4 linked regions of the Homo sapiens genome follow. The protein of the gene in region 1 interacts with the protein of each later gene in a pairwise test. Each region holds a gene or a part of one and is shown in the gene's direction. Other genes may lie near its edges. The genes, in order: SPAG5, NEBL, ZMAT2 and CHCHD3.

Region 1 (7,022 bases):
GGAGTCTTGCTCTGTCACCCAGGCTGGAGTGCAGTGGTGCCATCTAGGGTCACTGCAACCTCCGCCTCCCAGGTTCATGCAATTCTCTTGCCTCAGCCTCCTGAGTAGCTGGGATTACAGGCATGTATCACTACGCCCAGGTAATTTTTGTATTTTTAGTAGAGACAGGGTTTCACCATGTTGGGGGTCAGGCTGGTCTTGAACTCCTGACCTCGTGATCTGCCTGCCTCAGCCTCCCAAAGTGCTGGGATTACGGGCGTGAGCCACCGCGCCCGGCCTAATTTTTTTTTTTTGAGACAGGATCTCACTCCTTCATCCAGGCTAGAGTGCAGTGGTGTGATCTCGGCTCACTGCAACCTCTGCTTCCCGGGTTCAAGCAATTCTCCTGCTTCAGCCTCCCCAGTAGCTGGGATTACAGGCGCGTGCCACCATGCCTGGCTAATTTTTTGTATTTTTAGTAGAGGCGGGGTTTCACCACATTGGCCAGGCTGGTCTCAAACTCTTGACCTCAAGTGATCCACCCTCCTTGGCCTCCCAAAGTGCTGGGATTACAGGCGTGGGCCACTGCACCTGGCCTGTTTTGTAAATTTTTGATTATTAATAGATATTAATTGTTTGAAGCATTTGAATATATAAATGTATAAGGAAGAAATATTTCTGGTATCTTAGATAAATGTCATATTTGACAGTTCTTTCATACATCTCTTTATGTGTGTCTATTTTGTATATATGCACACACACACACACACACTCATCTTTATATTGTCTTTTTTTTTTTTTTTTTGAGAAGGAGTCTTGTTGTATCGCCCAGATTGGAGTGCAGTGCCGCGATCTTGGCTCACTGCAACCTCTGCTTCCCAGATTCAAGCGATTCTCCTGCCTCAGCCTCCCGAGTAGCTGGGACTACAGGCACCCGCCACCATGCCCAGCTAATTTTTGTATTTTGAGTAGAGATGGGGTTTCACCATGTTGGCCCAGCTGCACTCGAACTCCTGACCTTGTGATCTGACCGCCTCAGCCTCCCAAAGTGCTGGGATTACAGGTGTAAGCCACCATGCCCTGTCTTTTTTATTTTTTTTTTTGAGACAGGGTCTTGCTCTGTTACCCAGGCTAGAGTGCAGTGGTGTGATCTTGGCTTATTGCAACCTTGAACTCCTGAGCTCTAGCAGTCCTCCCACCTCAGCCTCCTGAATAGCTGGGACTACAGGTGTGAGCCATCATACCTTTTAATAATTTCAAAATTAAAGTAAGATACATGAAATTACAATAAAACATAACAGCATAACAAATTACTATAAAGTACACATCCATGTAACTAATACCCAGGTCAGTAAGTAGGACAGTACCAGAATATCAGAAGCCCTTTTTAACCTAACCTTGGTTTTGTTTCATCCACTAATATAAATGAGAAATTTCATATGTTTGATTATTATTATTATTATTTTTTGAGACGGAGTCTCGCTCTGTTGCCCAGGCTGGAGTGCAGTGTCACGATCTTGGCTCACTGCAAGCTCCACCTCCCGGGTTCACGCCATTCTCCTGCCTCAGCCTCCCAAATAGCTGGGACTACAGGTGCCCGCCACCACAGCCAGCTAATTTTTTGTATTTTTAGTAGAGACGGGGTTTCATCGTGTTAGCCAGGATGGTCTCGATCTCCTGACCTCGTGATCCGCCCGCCTCAGCCTCCCAAAGTGCTGGGATTACAGGCGTGAGCCACTGCGCCCGGTCTGTTTGATTATTTTTTTAATAAATAATTGGACTTTCTATCTAAAGCTTCCAGAATAGTTTTTTCTTCATTGTAGCACAGAAATTTTATAATTATGTGTCTAGCATGTATCTTTTCTAGTCAGTCCTGCTTAGAAACTGGTGAGCCATTTTAATGTGCAAACTCAGGTCTTTCATTAGGGTAGTTTTCTTCTAATATTTGTTAATCAGCGCCTCATGTATATATGTTCTCTTCTGGAATTTCTTTTATTTAACTGTTAGGTATCCTGGGTTTATCTTCTAATTCTCTTAGCTTTTTCTTCAGATTTACATTTCTTTATATTTTTATCTTTGCTTTAAGATATTTCTTCCACTTGTCCAGGCCAGTAATTCTAGTTTCAACTCTAATAATTTACTCTTTCAATTCATTTTACTGACATTTTTTATTTAAAATAATATTTATTATTTCTAAAATGTCTTTGTGTGTGTATTTATGTTGTAGTTAAAGCTTAAGTACTCGTTTTTTTTGTTGTTGTTCAGATTATCATCTGTGTCTTCCAGCAGCTCTGTTTTGTTAGGGTCTACCTTTTTTATTTATTTATTTATTTTTTTTTGAGACAGGGTTTTGCTCTGTCACCCAGGCTGGAGTGCAGTGGCACGATTTTGGCTCACTGCAACCTCTGCCCCCTGAGCTTCAGTGATCCTCCCACCTCAGCTTCCTGAGTAGCTGGGACTACAGGCACACATCAGCACCACCATGCCCGGCTAATGTTTGTATTTTTAGTAGAGATGAGGTTTGAACTCAAGCGATCCACCTGCTTGTGGCCTCCCAAATGCTGAGATTACAGGCGTGAGCCACTGCGCCCAGCCGAGAGGGAGAAGAACTTGTACCAACTCTAGATTCTGACAGAGCTTAAGCCTTCACTCACACCCTATGGACCCCTCCTATCTGTTCATCTAGAAGTGCGTTAGAGTTCAGAATGGAGATGAGTGGGGTCACTTTCAAGCTACCATCTGCCCACGATATGGATCTATATTCTCAGCCTGTTTATAATGTAGGCTGGTTCACTTGGAAGGACCCAAAATGGCTTAGCAGCTTTTCTTTCCCTACTATTGGGTCTCTATATGAGCAACAAAGATTAGCCAAGTTCTTACCTAAGCAGAGGTAGTAAGAATTCTTTTCTTTTTTGAGTGCACTATCTTGCACCTGTAATTGTATGTCGGGAACTGAATTGACTGCCTTAGACAACTACTTTTGTTTCCTTTGGCAGGAAGGCAGCAACAACTCATCTCCAGTGGATTTTGTAAATAACAAGAGGACAGACTTATCTTCAGAACATTTCAGTCATTCCTCAAAGTGGCTAGAAACTTGTCAGCATGAATCAGATGAGCAGCCTCTAGATCCAATTCCCCAAATTAGCTCTACTCCTAAAACGTCTGAGGAAGCAGTAGACCCACTGGGCAATTATATGGTTAAAACCATCGTCCTTGTACCATCTCCACTGGGGCAGCAACAAGACATGATATTTGAGGCCCGTTTAGATACCATGGCAGAGACAAACAGCATATCTTTAAATGGACCTTTGAGAACAGACGATCTGGTGAGAGAGGAGGTGGCACCCTGCATGGGAGACAGGTTTTCAGAAGTTGCTGCTGTATCTGAGAAACCTATCTTTCAGGAATCTCCGTCCCATCTCTTAGAGGAGTCTCCACCAAATCCCTGTTCTGAACAACTACATTGCTCCAAGGAAAGCCTGAGCAGTAGAACTGAGGCTGTGCGTGAGGACTTAGTACCTTCTGAAAGTAACGCCTTCTTGCCTTCCTCTGTTCTCTGGCTTTCCCCTTCAACTGCCTTGGCAGCAGATTTCCGTGTCAATCATGTGGACCCAGAGGAGGAAATTGTAGAGCATGGAGCTATGGAGGAAAGAGAAATGAGGTTTCCCACACATCCTAAGGAGTCTGAAACAGAAGATCAAGCACTTGTCTCAAGTGTGGAAGATATTCTGTCCACATGCCTGACACCAAATCTAGTAGAAATGGAATCCCAAGAAGCTCCAGGCCCAGCAGTAGAAGATGTTGGTAGGATTCTTGGCTCTGATACAGAGTCTTGGATGTCCCCACTGGCCTGGCTGGAAAAAGGTGTAAATACCTCCGTCATGCTGGAAAATCTCCGCCAAAGCTTATCCCTTCCCTCGATGCTTCGGGATGCTGCAATTGGCACTACCCCTTTCTCTACTTGCTCGGTGGGGACTTGGTTTACTCCTTCAGCACCACAGGAAAAGAGTACAAACACATCCCAGACAGGCCTGGTTGGCACCAAGCACAGTACTTCTGAGACAGAGCAGCTCCTGTGTGGGTAAGCGCCCCTATGTCCTTGCACCTCGTGAGTTCCATTACCCTGGACCTTCCCCTCCCATCCCTTCCCCTCCTTTTCTTTTCGTCATGTTCTTCTCTTTCTGCTGCAGCCGGCCTCCAGATCTGACTGCCTTGTCTCGACATGACTTGGAAGATAACCTGCTGAGCTCTCTTGTCATTCTGGAGGTTCTCTCCCGCCAGCTTCGGGACTGGAAGAGCCAGCTGGCTGTCCCTCACCCAGAAACCCAGGACAGTAGCACACAGACTGACACATCTCACAGTGGGGTAAGAAGGTTCCTCTCAAAGCTTGAGGGATCCCAGTGGGGATCCTTGGAATTTAAGCTGAGAAGCTGCCAGAGGGCAAAGGGGACTCCTATCACAGGCTTATACTTAGAACATTTGCAAAAGCTGAGAATCTGGGCAGTCACAATGGCTGATGCCTGTAATCCCACTGCTTTGGGAGGCCAAGGTGGGAGGACTGCTTGAGGCCAGGCATTTGAAACCAGCTTGGGCAACACAGCGAGATCCCATCCCTACAAAAGATTTTTAAAAAATCAGCTGGATATGGTTTTGCATGCCTCACTACTCAGGAGGCTGAGGCAGGAGGATCATTTGAGCCCAGGAGGCTAAGGCTGCAGTGAGCTATGATCATGGGCAAGACAGTGAAACCCTGTCTCTTAAAACAAAAAAGCTGAGGATCTGGAAAATCCCCTTAAAGCTGTGGGTAGTCACTCTACCCCTGGGGTACATCAGAACTTTCCAAAGGAGTGCAAGCAAGGAAACTTTTAAAGGAATTGGTTTTTAGATCATCATCTTCCACAAGTATTCTTTTTCTTCGTTTTTTGCATTGGTAGACTATATTTAATATTTTAAGAAAAATTATGAATAAGCCTAAAACATTTTTTAAAATAATTTTTAATTTTTGTGGTTACAGAGTTAGGTAAATATATTCATGGAGTCCATGAGATGTTTTGATATAGGCATGTGATGGTCAATAATCACATCATGGAAAATGGAAAATGGAGTATCTGTATCTGTCCCCTCAAGCATTTATCCTTTGTGTTACAAGCAATCCAATTATACTTTTAGTTTTTTTTTTTTTTTTTTTTTTTTTGAGACGGAGTCTCACTCTGTCACCCAGGCTGGAGTGCAATGGCCTGGTCTCGGCTCACTGCAACCTCTGCCTCCCAGGTTCAAGCGATTCTCCTGCCTCAGCCTCCTGAGTAGCTGGGACTACAAGCGCATGCCACCCCACCCGGCTAATTTTTGTATTTTTAGTAGAGACAGGGTTTCACTATGTTGGCCAGGCTGGTCTCGAACTCCTGCCCTCATGATCCACCTGCCTCAGCCTCCCAAAGTGCTGGGATTACAGGCGTGAGCCACTGCGCCTGGCCCCTGTTGTTTATGTGAAGAAGATTTCTCAGTGTTTACATCTGTCAGAATGGAAAGGAGTCAGCTGGCATAGTGGCTCACCCCTGTAATCTCAGTACTTTGGGAGGGTGAGGTGGGAGGATCGCTTGAGCTCAGGAGTTCAAGACCAGCCTGAGAAGTATGGTGAAACCTCATCTCTACAAAAAAATACAAAAATTAGCTGGGTGTGGTGGTGTGTGCCTGTAGTCCCAGCTACTTGGAAGGCTGAGGTGGAGGATCACTTGAGGCTAGGAGTTCAAGGCTGCAGTGAACTGAGATCTTGACACTGCACTCCAGCCTGGGCAACAGAGCCAGACCCTGCCTCAAAAAACAGAGTCACGAATTGTTGCTGAACTATTTCTTATTGCTGGAATTATAGTAATCCACAGATATACGAACTAATAAGGGGAAGGAATCTCCATCGATTTCATTAATAGGTGATTCCCAATTAAATTTTGCCGAGCATGTTTATTTTATTAGAAATTATATTACAGTGACTAATATACAACTGATTAAAAGATTTCTCTATCCTAAAGAAAGCTTTTTCACTTTAAAGCCTTCCGGTCAAAGGAATTTAAAGGAAATTTTAATTTAAATTTAGATGAACTTTCATTGTTGTTGCAGAGATGATGGTTAATAACAGATTTTATTTTTATTTTTTGAGATAGTTTCTTGGTCTGTCACCCAGGCTAGAGTACCATGTTGCGATCAGGGCTCACTGAAGCCTCAGCTTCCTTGGCTCAGGTGATCCTCCCACCTCAGCCTCCTGGGTAGCTAGGACTGTAGGTGTATGCCACCACACCTACCTAATTTTTTTGTATTTTTAGTAGAGATGGGGTTTTGCTATGTTGGCCAGGCTGTTCTCAAACCCCTGGGCTCAAGTGATCTGCTAGCCTTTGCCTCCCAAAGCACTGGGATTACAGGTGTGAGCCACTGTGCCCAGCTAATAACATACTTTAAAGCATAAAAATATATTACATTAGGCTGAAATTCTGAGAAAAATAAAAAATATATGTTCAAAGAGAAAAAGGGATGACATAATAAAATTTCTGACTGCTAAGAAGAGCTTTTTCTTGTATTTTTAAAAGATAGCAACTAGGTATCTCATCATTTTGGTGTATGTAGTATTTATGCCACTGGATATATTTAAGAGTAATCTAATAATTTTATTTTAGGCTGGGCATGGTGGCTCATACCTGTAATCCCAACACTTTGGGAGGCCGAGGCGGGAGGATCACCTGAGGTCAGGAGTTCAAGACCAGCCTGGCCAACATGGCGAAACCCCGTCTTTACTAAAAATACAAAAATTAGCTGGGTGTGGTGGAGGGCACCTGTAATTCCAGCTACTTGGGAGGCTGAGGCATGAGAATCGCTTGAACCCGGGAGGCAGAGGTTGCAGTGAGCCAAGATCGCGCCACTGCACTCCAGCCTGGAGGATAGAGTAAGACTCTGTCTCAAAAAAAAAAAAAATTATTTTAAATTGTCAATATTGGTAATATGCTGGACATTACAGCCTTTGCAACAATTTAAACTTAAGGGTACTTAGTTTTTGC
Region 2 (7,348 bases), on another chromosome or scaffold:
AATGTTGAATTCATTTTTAAAGTTAAAAGAAAAGCAGTTTATCTCTGTACTTTTTTCCCCCCACTCAGAACTGAATTTGGATCTGTTTTAATTGTTTATTATAAATTTTTATTTTTAAATCATGTATCACCATGTTGAGGAAAAGTACATGTTCTATCATTATGAAAAAAAGGAGAAAAAAGTGAAATAAGTGTGAAACAGTCAAAAACCAAGAAAGTCTTGTCATAGGCGACCTCAAGGAAGGTGAAGACAGTTGTGCACTGCACGACTCCAGATGGTGGCACAGATACGTTCCCTTGGCCACGGCTGTGTCTCTGAGACTTGAATTACCCACCTGACAGTTGCTAAGGAAATACATTTGCTTACGTGTAAACATCAAGCTATCAAAAGATCAGAAGACTTCTGAATTATAAATAAGCAAGTGAGCTCTTATCTTTAAGCTGTCTAGTTGCAGAAGGCCCTTCTTGACTTTAAAAGGATATTAATGGCACAGAGAATGAGAAGACCTTTTCATGCCAAATGTTTTTCACATCACTGTGTACCTTTATTGGTGGTTGAAAAAAAGCTTGTGTTTGTGAGGGGCTCCACTATTTTTAAGGTGCTTTTTCTTTTTATTTTTTTTAAGAGGGAGTCTCGCTCTGTCACCCAGGCTGGAGTGCAGTGGCGCGATCTTGGCTCACTGCAACCTCCGCCTCCCGGGTCAAGTGATTCTCCTGCCTCGGCCTCCTGAGTAGCTGAGATTACAGGTGTGTGCCACCATGCCCGGCTAATTTTTTTCTTTTTTCTTTTTTTTTCGGGATGGAGTCTCACTCTGTCACCTAGGCTGGAGTGCAGTGGCAGGATCTTGGCTCACTGCAACCTACGCCTCCCAAGTTCAAGCGATTCTTCTGTCTCAGCCTCCCTAGTAGCTGGGATTACAGGCGTAATCCCATCTACTGCCATCACACTCGGCTAATTTTTTTTTTTTTTTTGTATTTTAGTAGAGATGGGGTTTCACCATGTTGCCTAGGCTGGTCTCGAACTCCTGAGCTCAAGCAATCCACCTGCCTTGGCCTCCCGAAGTGCTAGGATTACAGGCGTGAACCACCGCACCCAGCCCATGCCCGGCTAATTTTTCTATTTTTACTAGAGACGGGGTTTGACCATGTTGGTCAGGCTGGTCTCGAACTCCTGACCTTGTGATCTGCCTGCCTCAGCCTCCCAAAGTGCTGGGATTACAGGCGTGTGCCACTGCGCACCCAGCCAGTGCTTTCTTTTTATTAACTTCTGTCAACTCAGTTTTTCTGTTTAACTATGAAGAATTAGAGGTAGTGAGGGGTTGAATAATTTGCCCTAGAGGACATGGCAGAGCCAGACCTGGACTTTGAGAGTTTAGCCATAAGTGATGTCTCTTGGTCTCATTCTGTATCAAGGCATGCGTAGAGTACTAAAGTAGAAAAGTAAACAACATAAAAGAAGTGCCCAATAAGTAAAAGCTATGAGCAGCTACAGAGATTTTGCCTTTTGGAGCAACCCAAGGTGAAAATATCTATTAAAATACATTAAGCTTGGTTTTTGGAAAAGTCGATAGGGGATTTTGAAACATGATAGCTGTCCATGAGGAACACTTTCTTCATATTCTCCATGTCATATTTTAGAGCTACTGACAAGAAAACTTTGCTGTGATGAAGTGCAGGGCTTAACACTTTTTTAGAGAAAACTTTGCATGAATTTTATATTATAGGTGAGAGGAAAAAAGATGTATTCAATCAAAAGTAATGGTGTCTCTAGCTTGCCAAACGATCCATTAAAGACTTCATCCAGCAAGTGTTGAGTGATGAGTATTTTATTTCCAATTCTATCTTAGTATGAAGAATATTTTATTCACCATTCTATCTCTAACACCAAGCACAGTGCCTGGCATAACAACATTTATTTGTTGAACAAATGAACACAGGTCTCTAGTTAGGTTCTGATCCTAGTGCTTCATTGAATGGCTTTGTAAATGAGACACATAATTTTTCATAGCCTTCATTTTGTCATCTGTGAAAGAGAGGGCTTTAGGTGTATTGATTTCTTAAGGATCCCTTTGGCTTGAAATTCTGATTCTAGAATCTCAAATGGAAAATTTGTGTTCACATTGCACGTGGTGTTTGGTTTTTGTTTTCAAAAGTTTGTGCATTAAATCTCAACAGCTTATTTTCTTGCAGCACAGTGAAGAGTCCCTAAGAACATATTACGTGATGGGAAATGAGAAATAACTGCACTGCAAGCCTGATGAAGGTAATTCACCTTGGGGAATAGGTGTCACCCTGAGTAACACCAGTACTGTCTCCTCAAATATGAGCCAAAAGGTGTGTCTCAGGCAGTTTTGGCAAGATTTTCTCCCTACACTCCTAGAAATTTGCAAGACAAGTTTACAGAAATTACTCCTCCCTATTTCCAAATAAAGATAATGTAATAGATCTATAGAATATTAGAATAGTCTTCTGGCCAGCAGAGGACTTGAGGGAAATAATTGGAATGCACACATTCTTTCCTTTTACGGAACAAATAAAATATACAAGGAATGTCCTTGTGGAATCCACTACACTGGGCCAGCATGATATGGCTGTAATCTTAGAGTTGTGGTTTCCAAGTTCAGCATGCTTGAGGCAATTTCTTTTTGGTATTTTGTTGGTGAACAGGATATGTGATACCATTAATTTAGCCTGTATCAAAAACTAGTTCAAGACCAACAGCTCCTTCTAGAACACAACATTTTAGGAGAATAGAGCAATGTTTCCCTAAGCAGTCGGTCATATTTCACAGAGGAGTGTTAGTTTTCTGGGGTAGTGGGTATGATTAAAAAAAAGATAGGTAGATAGGTAGGTAGGTAGATTAGATTAAATTGGATTAGATTTGATGAGATAAACAGGTTTGTGTTCAGGGGAACACGAGGTTAAGCAAGCCTAAGCAGGTTTTTTGGTTGAAGGTCTTCTCAGAACTTCTAGTATGTCAATATGCCTTGTAGATCTCTAAGTGGCAGGGACAGAGACTGGGGTACAGATTTCCCAAACATATTTGTTTAAGAAACCTGCTTTTTTCCCCCAGAATCTTTTGTGGAACTTTTGCCTCATGGAACACAATTTCAGAAATAATTTATACGTGATGACTGTGTAGAATGTTTTTCTTGTCAGGATTTTCAGTTTAGGTAAGGCCAAGGCATTTTTTTTTTACAGTACATTGAAAACTAGATATGATATCAAGAGAAAAAATTATGCTTGGCTACTTAGAATGACATACTATTTTTAATAAATTTGTATTTTGTATCATCAGTATTACTATTCAGTGTAGGGTATTTTTTATGCCCAATGCTAATGTGCTATGACTTGGTAAAATTAATTTACCCTAGGATTTACATAACCAGATTAATAAATTGTGAGTTGTAGGGAGTCTTGGAATTGCCTGAATTGACATTAAAATATTTGTTTTGAGAAATTTTTTTTTAACCTTGGTTTTACGTAACCAAGGACATACACTACATTATAAATATTGTGATGGTTTATTTTTCCAAACTTTTCTGAATGTGGGGTGCCCATTGAGTAATAATGCAAATCACCAATGACTTTGTAAAAATTGACATGATGAGTAGAACTGCAGAATTCAAAGATGATGATGATGATTTTTGAAACGATGTTTCCAGAATTGTTAAATTATGTATCAACATATGTTAACTGCAACTTCTCATGTTTAATGATGTTTACAATTAATACAATACCATACTCGCCAGTATAATACTAACAGTCATAATTAACTCAGAATAGATTCTTTGAAGTGGTTCAAAGGGCTTTTCATAATAAATAAGTAGCCTCTAATCAGCTAATATAAAGTGGGTATTTTTTAGGATGTGAGAAGTACTGGTATGTCTGATAAAACATATAATTTAGGTTGACAAAATGAGTTTGAATGATCCAGATTCACTACCCCAAGTCAGAAGGAAGTCTGACATTCCAGTGAAAGCTTTATTTAGACAGAGACAAGGAATCTTTGAGATAACAGGCTTTGGACTGTGCTATCTTGAGTGTTAGAGCTGAGTAGTTTTCCCAGAATCTCTAAGTCCTTTTTATGCTCTTTTATGAATGAATAGAATTAGTAAAAGATAAATAAATTTTTTCTTTTGGATTTCTTAACCAGTGGAAAAAATGTTGACTTTAAAAGTTCATAAAATCAAATTTTGCTTAAGAATATGTTATTTCCACTTGTGAGGCCAGCCTGGTAGACCTCTGGGATCCTTTTCTGTTCACTCACACACCACTGAGATAAGGAGTGAAGTGTGGGCTAAATAGGGCTGAGGCTTGGGCAAGGGCATTTCTGCCAGAGCACCAGAGACGTCAGCATCTCAAGGGCACTGTGGTATGGAAAAGGACGCCACATGAGTAAATTTTAAAAATATAAATATTTTAAAGGGTAAAAATGAGGGTCCCTGTATTTGAGGATATAAAAGATGAAACTGAAGAAGAAAAGATAGGGGAAGAAGAAAATGAAGAAGACCAGGTGAGTGAGAAAACACATACTCAGACCAGCGTTTGTTCCTCTAAATTGACAATGAGAAAAATGTTCTTTCTGTTCTTTTCTTTTTTTTCAAATAGGTCTTCTATAAGCCTGTTATTGAAGACTTAAGCATGGAATTGGCCAGAAAATGCACGGAACTCATTAGCGATGTAAGTGGCTGGAGTAATTTTTGTCTTATTTTGCATTGCACCTGTGGTATTATTATGTTATAGAGTCATAGAGCTGTGGGGGAAACCCTGAAATCACCTTTTAAAACACAGTCACTTTCCAGATCATGGAACAAAGTCCTGAAATTTTCAGTGATTTCCCCAAGGTCACCTATACAGAGAATTTCTGCTAGAGCAAGTCTCCTCATTCTTAATCCAGAATCCTGTCCCTTATGAGTTTTGCTGTCACGCTGGCATGAAATCATAAGGCATTGAATTGCAGTATTTATTCCATTTGAGAACCCCCAAAGATTTTAAAATGAATATAATGATGTAATTTGTCTTGGGAGGCCCTCTATCTAAATGAATAGTCATTTTTTTAACATTTTGGGGCCTTCTGAACAATCTAATGAATGGACTTGTCTTCCAGAACAGGAAAATGCATATATATATATATATATATATATATATATATATGCATATAATATTTATTTACAATTCAGGATTTGTTGATTACTGACCTGCTTGCTAAGAACCCTGATATTAGTGCAAGGATATTAGTGCAAGGGGTATTTTTGTTGTGACATTTTTTAGTAACTGGGATTGGTTGATATTACACTTTAAGGGAATCCCAGAATTATTGAATGATTGAACATATAATTTTATGTTAAATATGTAAGCTAGAATTCAAGAAGTACAAGGAAAAATGTTGCTCACCAGGGATGAGAATTTAGATGATCCTCATTAGCGGTTCTAAGAGGATTGCTGGTCCAGAGAAAGGGTAACTCCTGTAAAGTGAATATGTGCCTGTGTCTTCATTTAGAGAGATGAGCACAATACTGGTTGTTTCTGTTGTTGATAATAAGCAAAATGATCAGAATGTTTTGCACGTTTGTTTTCTAACGGAAGTCAGTCCTGGGCAGGAGGGTAGTGGTCTGGCACATCCTCCAAAGTCAACCTGCCTGGGTTGACTCCCCAGTAACCTTGGGAAGGTTATGGAACCTGGCTTGGCTCCATCCCTCAGCTGTAACATTTATAATAAGATTAAATAATGGTAATGCATATAAATGCTGAATAAACTATCTGGAACATTGTGAGTACTCCATAAATGTTAGCTGTTATTAACTACTCTGTCTGTTACTTCCTTTTACATCCATCCAATCACAATTTAGATATGACTGGCTCTTTCTGACAAACCAGAAGGCAAGCACAAAGGATGCTGGTGGAAATCATACCCTTTCCCATATACTTGACATGTGATGTAATTACCCTTTAAATTAAGTATTTCTTTGTGCTATTACTTAATAGTCATTAGCTATTGTATGTGAAAGTTCTCTGTAAATTGCAGTAATAATAAGTGACAATGACAACAACAACAACAATAACACTATTGGCAACAGTTAAGATTTAGTGACTATTGTGTGCCAGGGATTGCAGCTTGCGAGGTAGGCGCTAGGCTTTTTCTCATTTCTGAAGCGAGGAGATAGAGGCACAGAGAGGTTCAGTACCTTGCCTGGGTCACACAGTTAAGCAGAGGCAGTAATAGTTGAACACAGAGGCCTCCCTCTTTACACTGCCAAGTTATCTCTCCCTGTAGATTTCCATGAAATGTTGTTCTTCGCCTTATTATTATTATGTTACTATTATTAGTAGTAATGCTACCAACTAAAACCCTGAGTTCCTAACCTCTTCCAGCTTTGATATATTTTTATTGAAGTGCAATTATAGCTGAGCTAACTTGTGTTACATAAACCATCAGGACTAAAGTGGTAACTGTAGTTAGTAGGTGATTTGGTTGGAGTTGTTTTGGATAAGATTGTCTATCAGTGACTTTAAAACCAACATGTTGTGAGGGGTGGTGGCCTTTATCATTATGCAAAAGCTAAATCCATACATTTCACACCCACGTAGGTAAAATGAAACAGATAGGCATACTTTCTGTTTATTACAGATTTTTGTGGCATGGTAGAATGTACTACTTAAATTTAGGACATGATTATTCTGCCTTAATTTTTTTTTTTTTTTTTTTTTTTAGACAGAGTCTCGCTCTATCACCCAGGCTGGAGGGCAGTGGCACGATCTCGGCTCACTGCAAGCTCCGCCTCCTGGGTTCACGCCATTCTCCTGCCTCAGCCACCCGAGTAGCCGGGACCACAGGCGCCTGCCACTAAGCCCGGCTAATTTTTTTGTATTTTTTTTTTTTTTTTTTTAGTAGAGACGGGGTTTCACCGTGTTAGTTAGGATGGACTCGATCTCCAGACCTCGTGATCTGCCCGCCTCGGCCTCCCAAAGTGCTGGGATTACAGGCGTGAGCCACCATGCCCGGCCTATTCTGGCTTAATTTATATCTGTATACACATTCACATTTTGCTTCCGAATAGAATTCTATACTTGCTAAGATACTTATTTAATTTTTAGATTTTTTTCCTTTTTCTCTTCTTTTCTTTCTTCCTTTTTTTCCTTCCTTCCTTCTTCTTTTTTATTTTTCTGGACAGAGTCTCACTCTGTTGCCCAGGCTGGAGTTCTGTCATGTGACTGCAGCTCACTGCAGTCTCAATTTCCTGGGCTCAAGTGATTCTCCAGCCTTAGCCTTCCAAGTGGCTAGGACTACAGGTGTGTGCTACCATGCCTGGCTAATTTTCATTTTCTTTTTCGTAGAGATGGAGTCT
Region 3 (8,000 bases), on another chromosome or scaffold:
CTTTGGATGCAGTATCCCTCTTCCTTAACCCATTTATGTGAGGTTCCCTTTGCTCGTTATCTGGCCATGAATAAGGTGAAGAAGATGAAACGTTATCATGTTGGAAAGGTGTGGCGGCGAGAGAGCCCAACCATAGTCCAAGGCCGTTATAGGGAGTTCTGCCAGTGTGTAAGTGACCTGATGGGAGCAGCACAGTTTGATAGTTCTAGGGGCCACAACCTTGAAACTGGCTGGATAATGGATGTTTTTTCCCATCTTTTTCTTTGCTGTAGGATTTTGACATTGCTGGTCAGTTTGACCCTATGATCCCCGATGCAGAGTGTTTGAAGATCATGTGTGAAATCCTAAGTGGATTGCAGTTGGGAGACTTTCTCATTAAGGTGAGGCCAGGGCTGAGAACTGTGGGAGAAGTCTGGATTTGGCCTAATACTGTTTATGCAAGTCCCAAACTTGGGTGACTCCAACCCTTAAGCCTGCAACTGTAGGACTTTCCTAGTAAAGCTGTTGTATTTCCTATATGTCTGTACTCTTCCTGTGAAATTTCCATCCTTTTTGTGTGTCAGGAAAGTAGGTACTGCCATTGTTTTGAGTGGAAGGGCATTGACAAGCACTTGGGTCACTGACATTGAGTTCTCAGGTAAATGACCGGCGGATTGTGGATGGGATGTTTGCTGTCTGTGGTGTTCCTGAAAGCAAGTTCCGTGCCATCTGCTCCTCCATAGATAAACTAGACAAGGTAACAAAGAAGACATACTTCAGTAGACCCTATCTAGCTTCTGCCCTGCCCTCAAATCCATACCACTAGTGAAAAATAAGGAGATTGTGGCTGGAAGTGGGCTATTTTGGGGTGGAAGGTAAGGAGGCATACTCTGAAGGAAGATCTGAGTCATGCTATACAGTGGGGATTGTGACTGGATTTCTTAAGCTGTCTCTGACTTTGCTGAGTATACAGTTAGCTACTTGTGATGTATATACTGAATGGAAGTTGAGTTGTCCTTTTTCAGTTTGAGAAAGAAAGATCTTGGGGCTGGGCTAATGTTTGGGTGTTTATGCAGATGGCTTGGAAAGATGTGAGACATGAGATGGTGGTGAAGAAAGGCCTGGCTCCTGAGGTGGCTGATCGAATTGGGGACTATGTCCAGTGTCATGGTAAGAACCAGGGTTTTCAGAGCTGTGATAGAACCAGGCTGAAGGTGACATGTGCTCAAATTCTACCTCTGAAACAACTCTTTTCTGTAGATATGCTAAGCTCCAGGGCCTGTCCTGAATTTAATTTCTCTTTTACTTATTGTAACGACTTTGTGTCTTCAGATGGCAAAGCTAGAGGCAAAGGAGGAGGGTCTTGTCATGTGAGACTGGGATCTTTTTTTTTTTTTTTTTTTTTTAAAGAAAATGAGGAAGACTAGCTAGAGCACATTAGGGATAATTTTGAATGAAACACATGTGAGTGAACAGCAGAGACTTTATTTCTCTCCAGGTGGGGTATCCCTAGTAGAGCAAATGTTTCAGGATCCCAGACTATCCCAGAACAAGCAGGCCCTGGAGGGCCTGGGAGACCTAAAGCTGCTATTTGAATACCTGACTTTATTTGGAATTGCTGATAAGGTAAGCTGAATTGCAAATGGACCTCCTGCTGAGCTCTAGGGCTCTCAGGGTCCCGAGTCTAGTTTGGGACTGACTGTAATCTTGTCCCCACAGATCTCCTTTGACCTCAGCCTGGCTCGGGGCCTAGACTACTATACAGGAGTGATCTATGAAGCAGTGCTGCTGCAGACCCCAACTCAGGCTGGGGAGGAGCCCCTGAATGTGGGCAGTGTGGCTGCTGGTGGGCGCTATGATGGGCTGGTGGGCATGTTTGACCCCAAGGGCCACAAGGTGCCATGTGTGGGACTCAGCATTGGGGTTGAGCGAATCTTCTACATTGTGGAGCAGAGGATGAAGGTAGGTCCTAGATAGGTGTGAGGTGGGGCTGGAGACCTAAAAACCCTCCTGTTTCTGGAGGTGTAGTTGGAGTGGTTTTCTGATGATTCTTTTTGTCTTGATTTTTGGAATTGCTGGTGGAAAGGAGGTTTTTATTAGTTTTACTTTCTTCTCTCTTATTAGACCAAAGGTGAGAAGGTGCGGACTACAGAGACTCAAGTGTTTGTGGCCACACCACAGAAGAACTTTCTCCAAGAACGGTTGAAGCTTATTGCAGAGCTTTGGGATTCTGGAATCAAGGTATGGTGGAGCTGATATCTGAGCCATCTGGGTATGTGTGGAATTTAGGACCCAGGGCTATATCTATCTTATGTCTGGGGTGGAACTCAAAACCTTTTTAGTCTGCTAGCTACTACTGGCTACTAGATTGGCTTTTTAGGGTAGGCGGACTAGCCACTTATCTCTGGCTTTCTTGGATATCCATGTTCCTGAGGTTTGTTGCTGTGTTCACTTCTAAGTCCCTTACTCTGTCTTGATCCTTTTCAGGCAGAGATGCTATACAAGAACAACCCCAAACTATTAACCCAGCTGCACTATTGTGAGAGCACAGGCATTCCACTGGTGGTCATTATTGGTGAGCAAGAACTGAAAGAAGGGGTCATCAAGATCCGTTCAGTGGCCAGCAGAGAGGAGGTGAGTGGCGGCAGCAGAAATAGAAGGGACGAAGTATTTCTGCCTTTCCCAGATTCTGTAAGAAATATGCATCTTCTGGCTGAGAAATTATCTTCATGGTTAATAGTGGTAGAGATGAACAAACACTCACTCAAGATGACCATTGCTGCCTGTGAGTATTGACTGGGTGGCCAGAAGAAAGACAAATGAAATCCGAATGGGTATTTTGAGACTAATCAACATAATAGACATAGATCAGGTGTTTGAATCCCTTTCATCTTGAGGGTATACATTCTTCAGGTCAACCCACACTACTCCTTTCTGGTTGTATAAGTAATGGGAGAAGATGCAGAGTAAAACAAATCTGGAAAAACAGTGGCTAAGGAGTTAGTATCACTTTCTAGTTTATCACATGAGGATTCTCTTATGTTTCAGGTGGCCATTAAACGGGAAAATTTTGTGGCTGAAATTCAGAAGCGACTGTCTGAGTCTTGATCCTTGCCTGATTCCCATCTGCTGCTCTTTGTAGAAAAGGTTTCCTCTAGAACTGAATTCCTCTGGAATTGAGTGATGGACTTCACAACAACTAGCCAGGAAGGGTGACAAGTACCTTCTGCCTCCTCCATTCTTCCTGGGTGCAGAACTGTAGAAGACCCTGAGGACTCCTGGGCTAGTGTGAGCAGCTATTCTGCATGGGTGCAGATGGCTGGATGTGAAAGAGACATGCTCTAGCTGCAGAGGCAAATTTGAAGTGCCACGGAACGTTGTCAAGAGGTAGTGAGATTGTTGCTGTGAGCAAGGCTCTGGGAGAGTCACCTCAGGCTCAGGATTCTGAACCATTGAGATCAGAAACCAGATACTTAGCCTTCTACTGTAGCTACGGAACCAGATTCTGGTGAATTTGTCCACAATCAGCCATTGGCCTGTCTGGGGAGTTTTTGGAAGACAGCAAAGAGGGGCAATGGCTGCTTTCAGCTTTGAGGACAGATGCTATCCTAAGGGCATGGCAGTACCCATGTTGATTTGACATCTCTCTAGCCCATCCATTGCTTACAGTAGAAGAGTGGGGCTGTATGCTTGATAATCTTGAACATTGAACTTAATAGATGACTTGACAAGGTAGAGATCTGATATTTTGAGATTTTGGAGACCATTTCCTGTGCCAGAATCACTGCTCTATTCCATACCGTGCCATGGAGGCTGTTTTAGAAGTGGTTGGATAACATGTTAAATAAAATATTAAGTGTAGTAGTTTGGGTAATTTGTTATTGTTATCAAGGGCTTTGTTTGCATAGACCATAGAAAATGCTTGAGTGTACATTGGAGAATTCTGTGAGGTAGAAGTAACCTCCCTGGGATGATGCTTCTGTATTCAGTGATGAGCAGCCACAGTTTCTCCCTCTTTCCCTGTCTCCTCAAGAGGTAGTTTTTTTGTTTGTTTGTTTTTAGACGGAGTCTTGCTCTGTCACCCAGGCTAGAGTGCAGTGGCGTGATCTCGGCTCACTGCAACCTCCGCCTCTCAGGTTCAAGAGATTCTCCTGCTTCAGCCTCCCGAGTAGCCAGCTAATTTTTGTATTTTTAGTAGAGACAGGGTTTCACCATCTTGGCCAGGCTGGTCTCAAACTCCTGACCTCATAATCCACCCACCTCAGCCTCCCAAAGTGCTGGGATTACAGGCATGAGCCACTGTGCCCGGCCAAGAGGTAGTTTTGTTGCTAAAAATCAACATATAGTGAGCCGGTATGCCACAGTGCTTCACTCTAGAGTGTTGTTGATGACTGGCCTTTCCAAATCCAATTATGCTGATTAAATTATGTTCTACTATAAAGTTCCCCAGATGATGGAAAAATAAGTGAACCAAAGGGTGGTAGCATTGCTTCAAGGAAAAGAGCCCAAGTGCAAAACATGCTTTTTATATGTGCGTCGGGAAGGGTGCCTCTGTTGCAAACGTTTCAGTGTAGTTTAGGGTCATATCCCTAGTGCATGCAGGTGAATGAGAGGCATCTAGACCCCCTAATGGCGCTTCGGCCTTAAAAAAGGTTTAGAAATTCTTGGCAGTGGACGCAAAGTTGCTAGACTAGATCAGAGACCACTGTTTTGCGAACCTCAGTTTCCTTGTTTGTAAAATAGTTGAACTAAATCTTGACCCTTTAATGCTTGTTTTGAAATCCAAGGCAAAAAACAATTGCAAGCGCCCTTACTTCCGTGTTGCTTCATACTCCTCTTGCGCCTGCGCTGTCTCCTTGGAGCAGAGGCGGGGCCAACAAGCCTGTTTTAGAAACCCTCCAGTCCTTAGCTCGTTTAGAACACAAGACTCCAAGCTTATTGGAGGGCTATCTTGCCTTACGGCTCCAAGCCGCTTTTTACGGCGTTTTTCAGCTCGCCATTCACTTCGCTGTGAAGATGGCGTCGGGCAGCGGGGTAGGTGTTGTGTCTGAGGAGGAGGTTTTGCGGGGTGGGGAATGGTTTTTCAGACCTGAATAGAGACAAACTCCTGCACCCGACTGGCTTCCCGATATCTCCTCGAGATCCCAGGGTTCAGGTTCAAGAACTCCCCAGTAATAGGCCTTGGCAGAGGGTCAGTAGAATCGCGGAGGTTTCTCGGGTTGGGGTCTTGAGGCTACCTCAGTCTTCTCGTACAGTCCAAAGAGGCTTTGCTTTCAAAACGTCCTGTAGACACCTGGACCGCGAGGGCGCGGTTCCCTGCTTCTCTAGGGGCCCAGACACGGCGACGGATCTTGACGCTTTTTCCTCCCCACAGACAAAAAACTTGGACTTTCGCCGAAAGTGGGACAAAGATGAATATGAGAAACTCGCCGAGAAGAGGCTCACGGAAGAGAGAGAAAAGAAAGATGGTGGGTGCTAACTACATCAAGGGCTAAGGGTATCACAGAGGCGATGCGATGATGGAGAGCGGGTGGGAGTTGAAGTGCGCTGCCTTCCCACGCGGTGTAAGCTCTGGCAGAGTGCTGCTTCCCTGGGCCTAGGTTTCTGCATTTACAAAATGAGAGCGAGGAGGTGGGATGAAGTAAGTAGTTTTGAGATGCTCTTCAGCTCTATTTCACTCTGCTTCCTTGCCCACCCTTTGCTTGGCTCGTTTAATGCTTTCCTGAAGTACAGAGAAGATAACGGCATCCTTAGTAGTGACAGAGAAGTTAAGTAGAGTATTTTGCTGCTGTGCATTACCGCTATCAGTGACCCCCCTCTTTCCCTTGAAATTTCTTAAGGGAGAGAACATTCCTGGCCCAATCAAGACCCTCCCATATAGTCTGAGAAAAGCCGGGGAACTTTGCAGGATCTGTGATTGTTTCAGCTAGAGCTTAGTAGTGCTGTTTCTCTGTGCCTTGTACATCAGGGAGTTGGTGCTTCTCTCCTGTTTAAGAGATTGCATAAAGAAATGTTTTATTTTGTCATCTGTTTCAAACGTGTACATTCTTCTTTCCCTTTACCTCCAGGCCACCTTGCACTCACTAACTCTTTCATTTTTTATGTAACATGTAAAATAAATAGTGCTTGACATGTAACAGGCATTTCCTAGATGTTGGTCCCCTTTTATAAATTTGCCCAGCTCTCAGAAGGTTCCTTTCCGTTATGCCTAGGGTATCTGCCTGAAAGCATTCTTGAATGTCCTTGCTCCCGTTTTGAAAAAGTTGCTTCTAGTAATTCTTCAGAAATTCTCCCCCACAATTCAGTTAATCAATGAATATAAAACATACTGTTTTTAGATTTGCTGGCTTTAAAGTGGAGAAAAGCTGTAGAGTTGAGGATTGCTTATGATTTCTTCCTGTGTTGAGATTCTCCCCAGCTGCTACTTTAAGTGTCTGTTGTGTCCTTTCAGGAATGATTTTGAAATGAGTAAGACCTGAATTTTGGATTTCATGCATTTTTTTTCCTTTCTGGTTGAGGAACTATAATATTGAAGGGACTTCCTTCCCCATTATGTTTCAGGAAAACCAGTGCAGCCTGTCAAGCGAGAGCTTTTACGGCATAGGGACTACAAGGTGGACTTGGAATCCAAGCTTGGGAAGACAATTGTCATTACCAAGACAACCCCTCAATCTGAGATGGGAGGGTGAGTTGCTTATCATTTTTCCTCTGCAGCCAAGAATGCATCTAATAAGCCACCTATTTTGGTTTTAGGAAGTGTTAAGGAAGGTCCTTGGCCCCAGGATTACGTCCTTCTTGCCTGTAATTCTATCTTTATATTTGTTTTTCTGTGTCTCCCAAGGTCTCAAGTTGACATGATAGTGTCTCTAGGAGTGGTCACTCAGTGGGTTTCTTCATGTTATTAGCATTGGCTGGGCACAGTGGCTCACGCCTGTATTCCCAGCACTTTGGGAGGCCAAGGCAGGAGGATTGCTTGAGCCCAGGAATTCAAGACCAGCCTGGGTAACACAGTGAGACCCTGTCTCAATTAAAAAAACCAAAACAAACAAAAATCATACTATGAGCACTACAGCTACTACTCAATATAGTTTTTAAATTTTTTATTGCCATTGTACTTGTTATCAATTCTGATTTACTATTAATATTTTAAAAGGGATTATTTGATCTGTCAGAAGAAGAAATGAAGGAAAGGACTACTGAGGAGATTTCTAGGAGAGAAATTAGGTGGAGCTAGAATAGAGCCTAGGAGTTGTTAATGGTGAAGAAGAGGGGTTTGAGGTTCCAGACTAGCTGCAAAGGCTGTAGTTGTTATGGATGCCTGATTGTACACCTTCTTCCAAGACTATAACCTATAGGAAGAAGGGTCCTACAAGAGCTTGTCACCCTTTTGCCCCCCACTGCTTCTCTGTCCAGTTAGGTTTTCTGGCAGGAGAGCAACACAGATAGCAATGAGTGACACTTCTCTGAGCTGCTTAGTAAACCCACTGTTGTCCATTCCTGTCTGTATTAGTTATCTATTGTTATGTAAATTAACAAATTAACCTAAAGCTTAGCAGCATAAACTACACCACTCACAGTTTCTTTGGGTAAGGAATCTGGGAGTGGCTTACCTAGGTGGTTCTGGCTCAGGGTCTTCATGAAGCTGCAATCAAGGAGTTGGCAAGGTAGGTCTGCATTCATATGAATCTTAAGTGGGGCTGGAAGATCTGCTTCCAAGCTCTCTCACATGCCTGTGGTTTGGAAGCCTAAGTTCTTTGCCCCATAGACCTTTCTTTTTTCTTTTTCTTTTTTCTTTTCTTTTTTTTTTTTTTTCTGAGACAGAGTTTCACTCTTCTTGCCCAGGATGAAATGCAATGGTATGATCTCGGCTCACCACAGCCTCGCCTCCTGGGTTCAAGCGATTCTCCTGCCTCAGCCTCCCAAGTAGCTGGGATTACAGGCATGCACCACCTGATTTTTTTGTATTTTTAGTAGAGACGGGGTTTCTCCGTGTTGGTCAGGCTAGTCTCGAACTCCCGACC
Region 4 (7,022 bases), on another chromosome or scaffold:
TGAGGGTGTTTTTTTGTCTAGGTCTGTTGTAGATGGTTTTTATTTCTTTATATTTTTCTTGGCTTTAAATAGTCACTTTGTTCCCTTCTGAGACATGGGGAAGGATAAGAAACCGCATTCTCAGTATGTCCATAAGCCATTGTTTTTAGCTTAGTTTGTTAGAACATGGTGCCGATGAGGCACCAAACTTCAGTTTTGAACTGCAGTTAGGTTAGTTCAGCTTGGCTGAAGAAAACGTTCCAACTTTGACCAGTTGTCTAGCATTTATGTCATTGGTTGTAAGAAATGAAAGTTTACCAAGCTTACTAATTCAACAGAGGCAGTCACTGCTGGAAAGCTAATTCTGTGTTCTGTTACACTGTTAAAGATAGTACAGACGGTCTCCTGTTAGGATGGTTCGACTTAGGATTTTTTGACAGTGGTGTGGAAGTGACAAGCGTTCAGTAAACTCAGCTTCTGGCATTACCTTCAGCAAAATCCGTTGTAAACCAAGGAGCATCTATAATTTCATCTTCCTTTATTTTTTTCATATAATGACTTGGGTTCATTCCCTTAATATAAATATGTTGGCAATTATGAGGTTTTTTTGAGTTGGAGTCTCCCTGTGTTGCCCAAGCTGGTCTCAACTCCTGGGCTCAAGCTATCCTCCTGCCCCAGCCTCTGGGACTACGGGCATGTGCCGCTCCACCAGGCTCAGTCATCATTTATCTTAATGTATAAAGAATAACATTTAGTGAACAACATAAGGCTTTTGGTAACTATGCTGAATATTTATTTATTTATTTGAGACGAGTCTTGCTCTGTCACCCAGGCTGGAGGGCAGTGGCATGATCTCAGCTTGCTGCAACCTCTGCCTCCCAGGTTCAAGTGATTCTCCTGCTTCAGCCTCCTGAGTAGCCAGGATTATAGGCCTGTGCCACCATGCCCTGCTAACTTTTTTGTATGTTTAGTAGAGGGGGGTTTCACCATGTTGGCCAGGCTGGTCTCAAACTCCTGACCTCAAGTGATCTACCCACCTCAGCCTCCCAAAGTGCTGGGATTACAGGTGTGAGCCTCCACACCTGGCTGAATTTATTAATAGATTGTGTTTCTCTATATTGTTGAGGTCCTTAATAGCAATGAAAGGACCTACTTCAAATTTTAAGTTTAAAATTTCTTCTCACCTACCAGGTGTTATTTTTCATGGTATTGTAGGGTCTTGTTTTTTCCCTTTATCCTTAGCAACTGATAGCTTTTCTTCCCTCTTCTGTAAAAGTAACCTATATTTTTACACCTGATTCCAACTTTGAATCTGAAACTACTCTTATGGATTGGATGAGAGGTCACTCTTTTGCCTTGCCCTCTTCTCAAGGCTAAAATAAATTCCTAGAGAGGAAAGACCAAGCATTTTCATTACTCATATTACATGTGGTTGATAGGATTTTTGTGAGCACCTGCTGTGCCTGCTTGGAAAGTGTGCTTACAACTCTATCTTTCGCAAGTTTATCTGAAACATCAAAGCTGTGAGTGAACTCTTCTGGAGCAAATGTCAACTTCAATGAGTATCATTTTCAAAGATATATTTATCATGCTTTCCAGACATAAACGAATGTCCGCAGCTGGGCTTTAAAGTTGCAAGCTGAAATTCACAGGAGCCAGTTATGGCAGTATGGATACTTAATATGGAACGTAACTCATGCTTTGGGAAGTGTTGGCAGTTGAGAGACCGTAAATGAAGAGATTACTTAATATGCGGTATTACTGAGGATTCTGAAGAGAGTATGTTATCAGAGACTACAAATTCGGTCAGCCCTTGGGAGTGTTGAGGAATGTTGTGCAAATTTAGTTAAGTAGTGGATGATTAGTTTCTTTCAGCTTTAGATTCTATGAAGTTTTTGGCTACCATCTTAAGTTATCTAGGATTTTATAAAGGTAGGGATAATGGTTTCTACTAATGACAAATGTAAAGAAACACAGACATAAGCTAAGCATTACATATTTCATATATATCTATCAACATATATATGGGTTCCCTCTCCCCCTTTCTCTTAACTAACTATTTGGGAGTAATTTCTCCCAAATAATAATGGCAGTTTTTGGAGCCTATGTCTTAAAAAGGTAATTGTGAAGCAAACTAATACTCACACAGAAAATGACCTATGCTAAGTGGAAGGAGGATCAAGAGAGAAAAAATGGGTCTGAGTTCTTGAATCAATTTGCTAGGACACATCTGGAAGAAGATAAGATAAACTAATGGAGGCAGGAGGCTGATTTATTTGTCTCATGTGGCTCATAACTTTACCTCTTAGAAGGGCCACTGAAGAATTCCTCTTTTTTTACTCTGTTACCTGGGAGTAGAAATACTTTCTCTTTGTCCAACTCACCCAGTCTCCTGTTTCTGAGAAAATTCTTTCTTTTGGATTGGTGGGTAGTGTTTCTGGCACGGATTTTGGATAAGACCAAACAAGGTGGGTAGGAAGAGATGAGTGGGAAGACTGTAGGAGATGACACATGGCCTTTCCCCCTCTGTGGAGCACATTGGTGTGGTGAGTACCACAAATTTAAACTTGGCAAGCTCTGTTTGCTTAAATTTGTCTTTAGGAGCAATAGAGAATAGGGTGGACAGTCAAGTTCAGTGGGCTGAATATCGGCAGACCTGCTTCTTTTGATTGCCCCTTATATTAGAATGGTGGCTCTTTTAGTTCATAGAGCACTGTGGATCTGTAAGCTGTGGATTCTGGCCAGAACCATGCAATAAGCAGACAGTTTTGCATACAGTTGAGTAATTGACCCACGGACTACTCAGTCTGTGGACCTCAGGGTGTAATTCCCAGTATCAATGTGTGTGGGGATTATTTCACTATTCTTTGCTACAAATAATTTCTGTAAATTGCCCTTGGTATTTGCCTTGATGCAGATTCCAGAGATGTCTGGAAAGCAAGTATAATAGGTATAGGTCATTGTACAGGAAAAGGCTTTGCTTAAACAAGTGCCCGGTTCAGGAAAAGATATGTTTCCTGAAGAAGATACTTTTTTTTTTTTTTTTTTTTTTTTTGAGATAGAATCTCATTCTCTTGCCCATGCTGGAGTGCAGTGGTGCGATCTCGGCTCATTGCAACCTCCACCTTCTGGGTTCAAGCGATTTTCCTACTTCAGCTTCCCAAGTAGCTGGGACTACAGGCACCCACCACCATACCTGGCTAATTTTTTATATTTTTAGTAGAGATGGGGTTTCACCGTGTTAGCCAGGATGGCCTTGATCTTCTGACCTCATGATCTGCCTGCCTTGGCCTCCCAAAGTGCTGGGATTATAGGCGTGAGCCACCACACCTGACCGCAAGATACTTCTTACACAGAGGCTGCCATCGCAGAAGCTTGTGTTGTACTATCGACCCCCATTTTGGGTCATTTTTTATCAGAAAGATGAGTTGTTCTGCAGCTACAGATTGCGTGTATAATCCTGGCCAGCATCTCTAAAGCTTGTCAGCTGCTTCACGAGTGAGTACCCCTGTTCACAGAGGAGATCAGGTGAGTGTGCAGGTCTGAACTTACTACTGCAATGGGAAGGTCAGCTCAGAGAGCATTAACTTTGGATACAGATGATAACACAACAAAACTATTACCTCATATCTACGTCGCTATGAGCAGACTGGGAATAGGGTAATAGTGCTTGGAGTTGGCAGAGGTGCAACAGTAGATGGCCATGGGTGCTGCTTTGGAAGGGCCTAAGGATACAGTTGTTGAATGATTGTAAGAACAAGAGAAAGGTGGAGTCTCAATAAGGCAGCCGTACAATATGTTTATCAAGCCTTCAATAGGTTTAGTATATACTCCTTTGGTGCATGCTTACAAGTTTACTGAACTATAACCAAACATCCCACTGGGAAATGTTTTGAATTGATGTGAGAATTTGACATTAAGTAGCAACTTGGGACATCAGAGAGGCCTCAAAAAGAAAAAAAAGTTAACAAGAAATTAGTGATTAGGTTGAAAGAGACATTCTACTCCTACTACCTAGAGAGCATAGATAGAGAAAAATAAGCACCTTCTATACCCATACCAGGACTTAGGCAGCTGCTGCTTGCAATAGCTGCAGGCCTGGTCCTCATGCACCTTACAGAGAACGAGTCAGTACAAGCTCAGACCCAGTTGATAAAAATGAACCAAAATGAATTAAAAAGTCCCTGTGGTTGGAGCTATATGGGTAATAGCTTTACCAAATATTTGTGTAGCCAATTGTAGTTTATGGTGCAAAACACTAAAATCCCTCCACAGAATCTCTGGGGTAAACATTATTTTCATTTTTTTCAGATGAAAATAGTAACTTTTCAGATGAAAGCTTATAGCTAACACTTGATTTTTGAGATTTATATATATTATATATCAGTTAAAATAGCTTTAAGATTCTAAAAATGTAAGCTTATTTTTTCCTCTTTAAGAGGAAGTGATATTTTTATTACATGCATGGGATTGAAGGGGTGTGTTATTAAAAGTAGAGCATTGGACTAGAGATTGGGGAATTACTGCTTCTGGTCTTGATGCTGCCAGTAACTGAATATTACTCAGGGTCTCTTTTTTTTCTCAAGTATAAATTGAGTCAGTCTTACGGGGATTTTTCTAGGATGTGTCTCAGTTTCTCAGTTTCTCAGATGGGTTTCAGCAACATTCCCAGTGGCTGTCAGTTGTTAGAAGGATGCAGCTGGCTCTGGCATTTTCAAATAGAAAGTCTTCTTGTCTTCCAAGAAGGGAGTCGTAGTTTTTTCCTTCAAAGAGCACACACAGCATTTGATCTGTAGCCTTTCCCTTTTCCATCTTATTTCCATTCTGGTTTGGGCCCTGAGATACAAGTAACAGTTGAGGTATAGACTATTTAGTTCACTGATGTATCACAGGGCCTTGATTAGTGCCTGGCCTGGGAGACATTTGTTGAATGAATGACTTAATATATAGGAGCTTGCAATCTAGTGGAAAGGCAGAAAGGTGAATGTGGAAAGGCTAATTCCTGTTCTTTCATTGAGACTGTATTGGAAGTTTGAGAAAGGAACAGCAGGCACAAGGAATGGTAGCTTTAGGTAGGCAGGGTTGGAATGGAGTGGACAACTGTTTTGGTCAGTGAAGGCTTGGATGTTTAGACTGCGTCTTGAAAGGTGACTCCCTCCCAATGGTACAGGAGAGAGGGCAATGTAGGCGTGTGTAAAGGCAAGGAGATGGACGTAGAACAGGATATGTAATATTAAGGAAAAAAACTGTAGAATTTGAGGTTGGAGAGTTAGGCCATCACCAAATGATGAAGTCTTGAATGCTGTACAAAGAATTTGAATTTTTCTGTAAACAGACAGTAGCTATTGAAGAATTTGAAGTAGGGAGTTACCATTATCACATTTGCATTTTAAGCGGATGGTACAGGAATTAGGGCAGGAGAAATGGGATGAGAGAAGAGAGGAATTCATTAAATATTTAGGGATTGATGAAGTCAGAGCTAAGAATGAGAGAGAAAGAAGAGTTAAGAACAAGCCCTATGTTTGAATTTAGGAAGCTGGGTGTTGGTGGTGTCATTAATGAGGTAAGGAAGGCAGGAGAAAGAGGAGATATGCGGCAAACGTGAGATCAATTTTGGACACTTTGGGTGTGAGGTGCTTCTGGTTTGCCAGAAGGAAGGTGTTCATTAGGCACTTCAGTGTGGAGACCGGGCTTCTGAGAGATAGGTCTTAAGCTCGAGTGAATGCATTTATTAATGGAATTTATTAGTTTATCAACAACAGTTAGAAATCAAGAGATTGGATGAGAGTGCCAGTACAAGGGCACATAGAATGAGAAGGGCCCTTCAGCATTGAAGTGCAGGCAGGAGAGGGGAAGCTGCAAAAGAGATAAAATGTGGCCAGAGTCCTAGGAGAACCAGGACAGCAGGATGTCAGAAAAGCCAAGGGAGGGCTTTCCAGAAGACGGGAGTGGCCAGAGGTGTTAGATGCTAAAGGGAAGCCATATAAATAAGGCATTTTATAAATATAAAATATTTATTTACATAAATATCAAAAGTTATTTATTTGGTCATTGGTGACTTCTACCAGAGAATGTTCACTGTTGCACTGAGGGTAAAAGCCAGAGAGTGGTGAGTTCAGGAAGTGGAAATGGGAAGGAGACCCTTGATACAGGAGGAGGATCACTCAGTTACTTGAAATGGAAATCCTGGGGTCTTCCTTGATGACTTCTGCTTTACTCCCACATCTACTCAGATACTGGGTAGTGATGCTGAGGGATGTTTGAGTGGGATCTTTTTTTTTTTTTTTTGAGACGGAGTCTCACTCTGTTGCCCAGGCTGTGGCGCGATCTCACTGCAAGCTCTGCCTCCCGGGTTCACGCCATTCTCCTGCCTCAGCCTCCTGAGTAGCTGGGACTACAGGCGCCCGCCACCACGCCCAGCTAATTTTTTGTATTTTTAGTAGAGATGGGGTTTCACCATGTTAGCCAGGATGGTCTCGATCTCCTGACCTCGTGATCCGCCCACCTCGGCCTCCTAAAGTGCAGGGATTACAGATGCGAGCCACCATGCCTGGCCTTGAGTGGGATCTTGAGACTCAGACTTTTTGGGTTTGAATCCTTCCTCTGCTACTGATAAAGTATCTGATCCAGGGCCAGTTATTTAATCCGGCTATGCTTCAGTTTTTTCACCTATAAAATAGAGATACAAAAGTATCTATCTCATAGGCCTGTGAAGGAGTAAATAAGTGAAGTGCCTAGCTTAGTGTAGCGCCTGGCACATAATAAGCACTCAGTGAATGTTAGTATTTTAAATCCTAAATACCTTTTAAGTGTGTTCTCCCCTGGATTACCATAATAGCTTTTTTTTTTTAAAGTTTATTAAAGTAAATTGTTGTAGAGTAATTTACATGCCATGAAATTCATCCATTTTAAGTTTACATTCCAACACTTTTTTTTTTTTTTTCTAGATAGGGTCTTGCTCTGTTGCCCAAGCTGGAGCACAGTGGCATGATCATGGCTCATTGCAGCCTTGACCTCCTGGGCTCAAGTGATCCTCCCTCCTC

Evidence for each region.
Region 2: the proteins of SPAG5 (region 1) and NEBL interact in binary tests that used the Homo sapiens proteins (3 or more experiments, as listed by UniProt).
Region 3: the proteins of SPAG5 (region 1) and ZMAT2 interact in binary tests that used the Homo sapiens proteins (3 or more experiments, as listed by UniProt).
Region 4: the proteins of SPAG5 (region 1) and CHCHD3 interact in binary tests that used the Homo sapiens proteins (3 or more experiments, as listed by UniProt).

The regions. Positions count from the first base shown.
Region 1 is NC_000017.11:28,589,020-28,596,041, reverse strand, and holds part of SPAG5 (sperm-associated antigen 5), read left to right. Parts: intron 1-2,975; coding exon 2,976-4,060; intron 4,061-4,169; coding exon 4,170-4,344; intron 4,345-7,022. UniProt on the Homo sapiens protein: Essential component of the mitotic spindle required for normal chromosome segregation and progression into anaphase. Required for chromosome alignment, normal timing of sister chromatid segregation, and maintenance of spindle pole architecture.
Region 2 is NC_000010.11:20,894,292-20,901,639, reverse strand, and holds the start of NEBL (nebulette), read left to right. Parts: upstream 1-4,328; 5' UTR 4,329-4,434; coding exon 4,435-4,515; intron 4,516-4,610; coding exon 4,611-4,682; intron 4,683-7,348. UniProt on the Homo sapiens protein: Binds to actin and plays an important role in the assembly of the Z-disk. May functionally link sarcomeric actin to the desmin intermediate filaments in the heart muscle sarcomeres.
Region 3 is NC_000005.10:140,695,466-140,703,465, forward strand, and holds the start of ZMAT2 (zinc finger matrin-type protein 2), read left to right. Parts: upstream 1-4,981; 5' UTR 4,982-4,995; coding exon 4,996-5,013; intron 5,014-5,353; coding exon 5,354-5,447; intron 5,448-6,540; coding exon 6,541-6,664; intron 6,665-8,000. Other genes in the region: HARS2 (histidine--tRNA ligase, mitochondrial isoform 4 precursor), read left to right, coding at 43-168, 273-380, 638-736, 1,056-1,149, 1,478-1,605, 1,699-1,941, 2,104-2,220, 2,467-2,613 and 1 more. UniProt on the Homo sapiens protein: Involved in pre-mRNA splicing as a component of the spliceosome.
Region 4 is NC_000007.14:133,072,071-133,079,092, reverse strand, and holds part of CHCHD3 (MICOS complex subunit MIC19), read left to right. Parts: intron 1-7,022. UniProt on the Homo sapiens protein: Component of the MICOS complex, a large protein complex of the mitochondrial inner membrane that plays crucial roles in the maintenance of crista junctions, inner membrane architecture, and formation of contact sites to the outer membrane.